2 linked regions of the Homo sapiens genome follow. The protein of the gene in region 2 purifies or fractionates together with the protein of the main gene of each other region. This does not show direct contact. Each region holds a gene or a part of one and is shown on either strand. Other genes may lie near its edges.

The links. The genes of interacting proteins can lie anywhere in the genome.
Region 1: the proteins of KYAT1 (region 2) and ZZZ3 purify together in Homo sapiens (affinity purification with mass spectrometry; 2 studies listed by BioGRID and IntAct, with this or other methods). This does not show direct contact.

The regions. Positions count from the first base shown.
Region 1 is NC_000001.11:77,633,921-77,637,752, reverse strand, and holds part of ZZZ3 (ZZ-type zinc finger-containing protein 3), read left to right. Parts: intron 1-3,832.
Region 2 is NC_000009.12:128,880,514-128,884,113, reverse strand, and holds the start of KYAT1 (kynurenine--oxoglutarate transaminase 1), read left to right. Parts: upstream 1-2,163; 5' UTR 2,164-2,217; intron 2,218-3,600. UniProt on the Homo sapiens protein: Catalyzes the irreversible transamination of the L-tryptophan metabolite L-kynurenine to form kynurenic acid (KA), an intermediate in the tryptophan catabolic pathway which is also a broad spectrum antagonist of the three ionotropic excitatory amino acid receptors among others.

The DNA of each region.
Region 1 (3,832 bases), on a different chromosome or scaffold from region 2:
AACTGCTTTAGTCTATAATATTTTGCTAAGCTTGGCAAAACAATGTTGAGACTTGGTTGAGATAATACAGACTTTTTATTTTTTATTTTCTAACAGAAAGGGTCTCACTATTGTCCAGGCAGTTCTCAAACTCCTGGGCTCAAGTGATCCTCTTGCCTCAGCCTCCTGAGTATCTGTGACTGTAGGTGCCCCCACTTCCCTGCCCCTGCACCTGGCTAATCTAGACATTTTTGGTCCCTTTTTATTAACTGAATTTTGCACTCAGTTTATTAGATAATTATAGAAAGTGTGTACCTTTATATATGCCTATCCAAAATAGAAAAGATATGAAGAAAAAGGTTAGAACAGAAAAAAATGATCAGAGGGAAGATTAGCAAAATTTTGTTTAACTCTGATCTTAATAATTTTAACCAGTTTATTACCTCAAGTGCACATCACATGTTAATTTCAGGTAAGATTTTTTATAGTCTTCCATTTGGTGCTTCCTTGGTCTTATTTATAAATTTTTTTATTATTAGGATCCAGTAAGAAATTAAAGGGTATTTTATAAATAGTTCTAATTTAGTTTGAAACTTGATGACTATTATCTTATTAGAATTCTGTCTGGGTTCACTAGCCTAAGGCAGTGCTTCTCAAACCCTAATACATACATGAATCACCTAGGAGCCTAATTCGTTGGTAGGTCTGGGGCGGAGCCTCGTATTCTGCATTTCTAACAAGCTTCCAGGAGATGCCCGTGATTGAGCTGCAAGAGCCTGAGGTACCACAAGGATCCTTGTTATAAAACAAGTTCTCTTTCAATACAGCCCAATAGCACAGAATTTGACAATCCTAGCACTAGGGCTTTGTTCTAGTTATTGAGTGAAATAAAAGCATTTTTAGGGTACAGAAGAAATGGAAAGAACCTTAATCTTTTATATTAATCAGTGTTTTCATATTTTATTTAACTTTTGTATTAATCAGTGTTTTCATATTTTAATCAGTGGAATGGTGAAAAATTAAGATAGGCCTTACTATACGTGATTTTTTTTTTTTTTTTTTTTTTTTCAAGACAGGGCCTTGCTCCCATCACCCAGGCTGAAGGGCAGTCACATCACTACACCCTTGACTTCCCAGGCTCAAGTGATCCTCCCACTCAGCCTCCCTAGTACCTGGGACTACAGGCAGGCTTCACTACACCTGGATAAATTTTTTGTATTTTTAGTAGAGACAGGGTTTCGCCATGTTGCCCAGTTTGGTCTCGAATTCCTGGGCTCAAGTGATCCACCTACCTCGGTTTCCCAAAGTCCTGGGATTACAGGCCTGAGCCACCATGACCAGCTTATAGGTGATATTTTATAGTAAAGAATATATGTATAAAAAAAAGGTTTTTAGTACTACTAATAATAGGTTCATTTCATCCAAAATAGTCTCTCTTTGAGAAGTTTGTACTGCAAGGCAAATTTTGCTCCCATTCAGATTGGTGTGGAAAGAAAAGGTTAAGGAAGTCTTATTATTGGAATAATTTAAGAGGTTTTTATGCCCTTAATTGGGATTGCATTTTAAAAAGTAAAGACTAACAGATTCTTTTGTGTGTTTATAAAGTATTTCTATTGTCAGTATTATTTTTGAACCATAAATTATGAGTATAGTTGAATTTACATTAAAGATAATATGTATTAGATTTTGTAGGCATTTTAGTTATTAAATTTAACTTAGCCTTATGCTTTTTTTGTGCATTTACATACATATTTAATATTTAAAAATAAGTAATCTTAACCCTTTAGAGTGCCAGATTTGGATACATGAAACAAGTAAGTTGCTTTTCATGTATTTCAGTTTGTGTTCTTTTCTTTTTATTTTTTTTTGAGACAGAGTCTCGCTCTGTTGCCCAGGCTAGAGTGCAGTGGCGCGATCTCGGCTCACTGCAACCTTTGCCTCCTGGGTTCAAGCGATTCTCCTGCCTCAGCCTCCCGAGTAGCTGGGATTACAGGCATGTGCCACCATGCCCTACTAGTTTTTGTATTTTTAGTAGAGACGGGGTTTCACCATGTTGGCCAGGCTGGTCACGAACTCCTGACCTCAAGTAATCCGTCTGCCTTGGCCTCCCAAAGTACCGGGATTACAGGCATGAGCCACTGCCCCTGGCCAGTTTGTGTTCTTTTAAAACATCATTTGAAGTTTAACTTAAATGTTTTACAATTAAAAGTGGAAAATTATGGGACACTCAGTGTTTGTTACCCATGAAAGAAACAGATTGTAATCTTCATGATAATATATTAGCAAACGATAATTAAATGTCAGCTGTTCTTTTAATGAATCCCCCAAACAATGAAAGTTTACTACTGTAAGAAATGTGTTTCTAAGTTCTGATTTGTGTCTTGTACTTATTGTTCACTTGGTTGCTATGAAATTCTGTAGAACATATAACCATGCTTTAATTCCAGGGCTAGTTTTGTGATTCTTATAAGATTTAAAAAAATTGTTAATTAAAAATTTAAAAGTATGCCATACTTTGAGACAACACTAAACTCAGGCAACTTAAATATTTTACAGGGTACTTTCTCACTTAATTCACTTGTCAGCAGGCAGGAACAGGGAGATTATTTCCTGTAGTGTTTCTTTTTTATATGTGGTAGCATGTTGCTGTGTCTTCTATAATTCTTCCAAACTTTCCACTGTTAGATAGTTCTAGTTGAAGCAAGGAGAAATTGTGTTTGATTTTTAGGGGTAGGAGTCAGAATGGCATTTGGAGGTTTACATGAGAAGGGAGACTGTTGATGACCAAAGGCAGGAGGAAGGGACTGTGAAACTTTGCACTATTGCCACCACTGGCCTCTTTCTCTAACTAATCATCCTGCATCTCATTCAAAGTTAGGAAATAAAATGACAGGGTACCTTGTGAAAACTAAACAGAAGAGGAGTCGGGGAATAGAGACTTCAAATATTAACAGCTCCTTTATTCTGCTTGATGGGAGAGCCTCTGGAAAATATCACCAAATCACTAGTTTACCCAAATGGATCAATCAAGGCATTTTTCTATATCCCTTACATTTCTGTCATATAAACCTCAAGCATCCACACCAGAATACCTGCTCATCTCCCAAACCACACATTAAAACTGGCACTGGCATATGCTATACACAGGAGTTCAAAGAAGGAAAGGGTGGGATTACAGGAGTAGTCTTGATTTCTTAAATGTAAGTATTTGCTTCAGAGGCTTCTTCCCCATTTTCTTTTCTGGTCTTTGGAACACTCCCTTTCACTTGCTAATTTATGGCTTTATTTCTAGAGACTAGGAAGGCTTGGGTTTGCTTTGTTTTGTTCTTAGCCAATGCAAGCTAGCATTGTGATTTTTGTCTATTTAGTTATGAAAAATTATACTGCAATAAAAAATTTTTGGATGCCAGATTATTATTAAGGGATTTGATCTGAAACTCATTTTAGCAAAAGTAAATTAAAAAGAGGAGAGCCTGCCTTTCTGTATACCGGGAACATTTTGAAAGAACACGAGAAATGATTGGAATAGTTTTTTGAAAGATAGCTGCTATATAAGTTCAAGATTATTATTTTATTTATTTTATTTATTTATTTATTTATTTTTTTGAGACAGTCTCACTCTGTCGCCCAAGCTGGAGTGCAGTGGCATGATCTCGGCTCACTGCAAACTCTGCCTCCCGGGTTCAAGTAATTTTCCTGCCTCAGCCTCCTGAGTATCTGGGATTACAGGCGTGTGCCACCACACCTGGCTAATTTTTGTATTTTTAGTAGAGACAGCGTTTCACCATGTTGGTCAGGCTGGTCTTGAACTCCTGACCTCATGATCCTCCCGCCTCAGCCTCCCAAAGTGCTA
Region 2 (3,600 bases):
GTCATTCAAGAGTTTGCAAAGGAAACGGCTTCCTGGTGGGTGTGCCTAAGGGATGGAGAACCACCACATCTAGTCAAGTTCTGGGGGGAAGTCATGAACATTTCCTGTGCCCCCGCTCTGTTTTTTTTTTTGTTTTTTTGAGATGGAATTTTGCTCTTCTTGCCCAAGCTGGAGTGCAATGGCGCGATCTTGGCTCACTGCAACCTCTGCCTGCTGGGTTCAAGCAATTCTCCTGCCTCAGCCTCCCGAATAGCTGGGATTACGGGTGCGCAGCCCCATGCCTGGCTAATTTTTTGTATTTTTAGTAGAGACAAGGTTTCACTATGTTGGCCAGGCTGGTCTCGAACTCCTGACCTCGTGATCTGCCCGCTTCAGCCTCCCAACGTGCTGGGATTACAGGCGTGAGCCACCACGCCCGGCCCTGCACCCCCTGCTCTGTACCCTATGGTCCCTAGAACGCAGAGGGCATCAGACCCCATGCCAAAGCCCTGAGACCAGGAAAACAAGGAAGCAGAGACCAGCCACCCAGTCACTCATCCCTGGCATGTCCACAACAGCCTCCTCCAGCACAGGTCATCTGTCCTTGCCTCACTTCATGAGCCAGAGGAAGACTTGACCTTCATGGAAGCAACACCAGTGAGACTGAGCAATCAGCACTGCCCAGTCTCTCTGAACAAACTCCCACTCCCACATCCCCTCCACAGGAAGTATCAGCAACAGCCGATCTCCTCCCGCTTCTTACAGCCTGTCTGTCTGCCAGGTTGTCTGCTCCAAAGGGCAGAATACAGTTTGGCAGGGGTTAAGAGTACTACTAACAGAAGAGGTGGAAGAGGTCCTTGGGAACTTCGGGCTCCCCCAGTTCCCTTCCTCTTACCAGGTGCTCTCCCTCCACACCTCATTCTCAAAAGGCTTCCTGAGGTAGGGCAGGGGAAGAGGAGTCAGTGGAAGTGTGGCTCACCCAGGAACCGCCCACCCTTCCAGCCAAGTCTCCATCAGGAGGCGGCTACCAGACAACCCCCGACCCATCCCTCCTTCCCAAAAAAGGCAACAATCGCAACAGCTGAGAACCGGCAGACCTCGGTTCACCCCGGTCCAGATCAAGGGGAAGAAGCAGTCAGCGAAAGCAGCAGAATCATCATGAACTCCATGACCCCAGCTATGCCCCTTCAGCCTGGGAGCTCAGTTTGCTGGGTATCCAGCTCACCTAGGGCTGCACCAGGCCTGGACCTCACTGGATCTCGCCTCGCCCTCGGGCCCACCTGAATGCACAGGACTGGGACAGGGTCTGGGTTCTTAGATTCCGGACCGGTCTTCCCAAATATCCCATCCCAGAAAGGCCCCAAGAGCCTAGCCGGGGATCCTGCCCCCAAGTCAGGGCACTGCCCCCATCGGAACGATAGGAAGGAGGGGTGCAAGGGAAGAGAAGGGGACCAGGAACTCAGGAGAAGACAGCTAAGGAAATCTTTGAAAAAGAAATGGCAAGGAGAGAGCCCAGAGGTGGAACCTCTAGGAACGGGAGAGTGTGTGTGGAGGGGTGAGGATCTGGGGGGACCCAGGGGATGACAAGGGGACATGGGGGAGCCGAGGCGGAAACTCCTGGTTTCTGAAGCACAAGGAGGCACAGGGGTGCCTGGGAGGGGGCTCGCGCGCCGCGGAGCCGGCGAGAAGGTGGTGCCCCGGAGACTCCGGGCACTGGGGAGCCCAGAGGTAGGCCGAACACCGCGGGAGGTCCCCAGGGGGCCGGCCCGGAGACAGAGCCCCAGATGCCCCGGGCGCCCCGGGCCGGGCAGCTGGCCGAGGGCGTGTGTAAGTGGGTTTCGAGAGGTGACAGCTCGCGCCCCTTTCCCCACCCCGTCCACTCACCTGGGCTCGCCGCGCCCGGCCGCCCGGCAGGCAGCCCCAGGCCCCGGCCGCTCCGTCCCGCCGCCGGCCGCAGCGCTGCTCCGGCGCCTCCTTTTGTTTGTCCCTCACTGCACCACTCAGCCTCCTCCGCCCCGGAAGTGACGTCACCGCCGGGCGCGAACGCGGCGGCCAGGGCGTCGCCATCTTTATGAGGAGAATTCTAGCGGCGCTTTCTCCCGCTCTCGCCTCCGCGCTAGCGCCCTGCTGCTTCGGGGCGGAAGTAGCGGAGCCGGGCTCGGCCCCCTTAAAGGGACAGGGACTGCTGCAACCTACGGGGTGTACTTGGGAACGAGGGGTGAAGCGGCCCAGGTGAGGGTGAGTAGCTGTGTCGGAGCGCCACTTCCCCAAGGTCAGGTGCCGAGGCTGGGAGGGTCGGCTAACGGTTCCGAGCTTGGTTGTGCTAGAGTGCTTAATGAGTTTGATGCTACTAAGTATAACGGAGTGGCTGCACAGAATGATTGAGCCGCCCGCGGGAATCAACTGCGCGTGCTGCTCGCTGATTCTCGCTCGGACACTGGGGCTGGTCCTGTCTGCACCCAAATCCCCCTCCCACGACCGCGCCGGTGGAGATGATACCCGAGACAACAGAATTCTGGACAGATCTGGGGTTGGAATTGGGTCCCCAGACTCCAACTCTGCAGCTCCATAAATCCCGCTGGGTCCTCGCAAATTCCCTGGCTGATAACAGTACCGGCAACCAAATTAAAAAATAATCCATACAGTGGAATACTGTGCAGCCATTAAGACGAACAATGTTTAATATGCACTAATGTAGGGTGACTTCTAAGATACCTTAGGTTAAAAAAGGAAACAACAGTAAAAACAGCGTTGGGCCGGTTGCGGTGGCTCACGTCTGTAATCCCAGCACTTTGGGAGGCCGAGGCGGGCGGATCACGAGGTCAGGAGATCGAGACCATCCTGGCTAACTTGGTGAAACCTCATCTCTACTAAAAATACAAAAAAATCAGCCGGGCGTGGTGGTGGGCGCCTGTAGTCCCAGCTACTCTGGAGGCTGAGGCAGGAGAATGGCATGAACTCGGGAGGTGGAGCTTGCAGTGAGCCGAGATCGCGCCGCTGCACTCCAGCCTGGGCGACAGAGCGAGACTCCGTCTAAAAAAAGAAAAAACAGCGTTGATGGGTGCTATCCATCTTTGCGTAGAAGGACGCCTGAGGGTGGGCGTATCTGCGGGTGTGCGCGCCAGCTGTCTGATAAGATGCACAAGAAGTTGTTAATTGCGGTTGTCTCCGACAGAATTGGGGTCTTGGGTACCTGGGCCAGGGCGAGAAATTTACTACCATGTGCACAGATAGATAATTAAAAATAAGATGATGAAGATAGTCGTGGCTCCCATCCATCACGTGTTAAGCCAATGCCTAGTTTCACTTCTGTTGGGAGGTCTTATTTTTCCCTTTTAATAGAAGAGAAAAGAACCTTAGAGAGGTTAGGAAACTTAGCAATATCATAGCCAGGGCCGGGCGCGGTGGTTCACACCTGTAATCCCAGCACTTTGGGAGGCTGAGGCGGGCGGATCACGAGGTCAGTAGATCGAGACCATCCTGGCTAACACGGTGAAACCCCGTCTCTACTAAAAATACAAAAAAATTAGCCGGGTGTGGTGGCGAGCGCCTGTGGTCCCAGCTACTCGGGAGGCTGAGGCAGGAGAATGGCATGAACCTGGGAGGCAGAGCTTGCAGTGA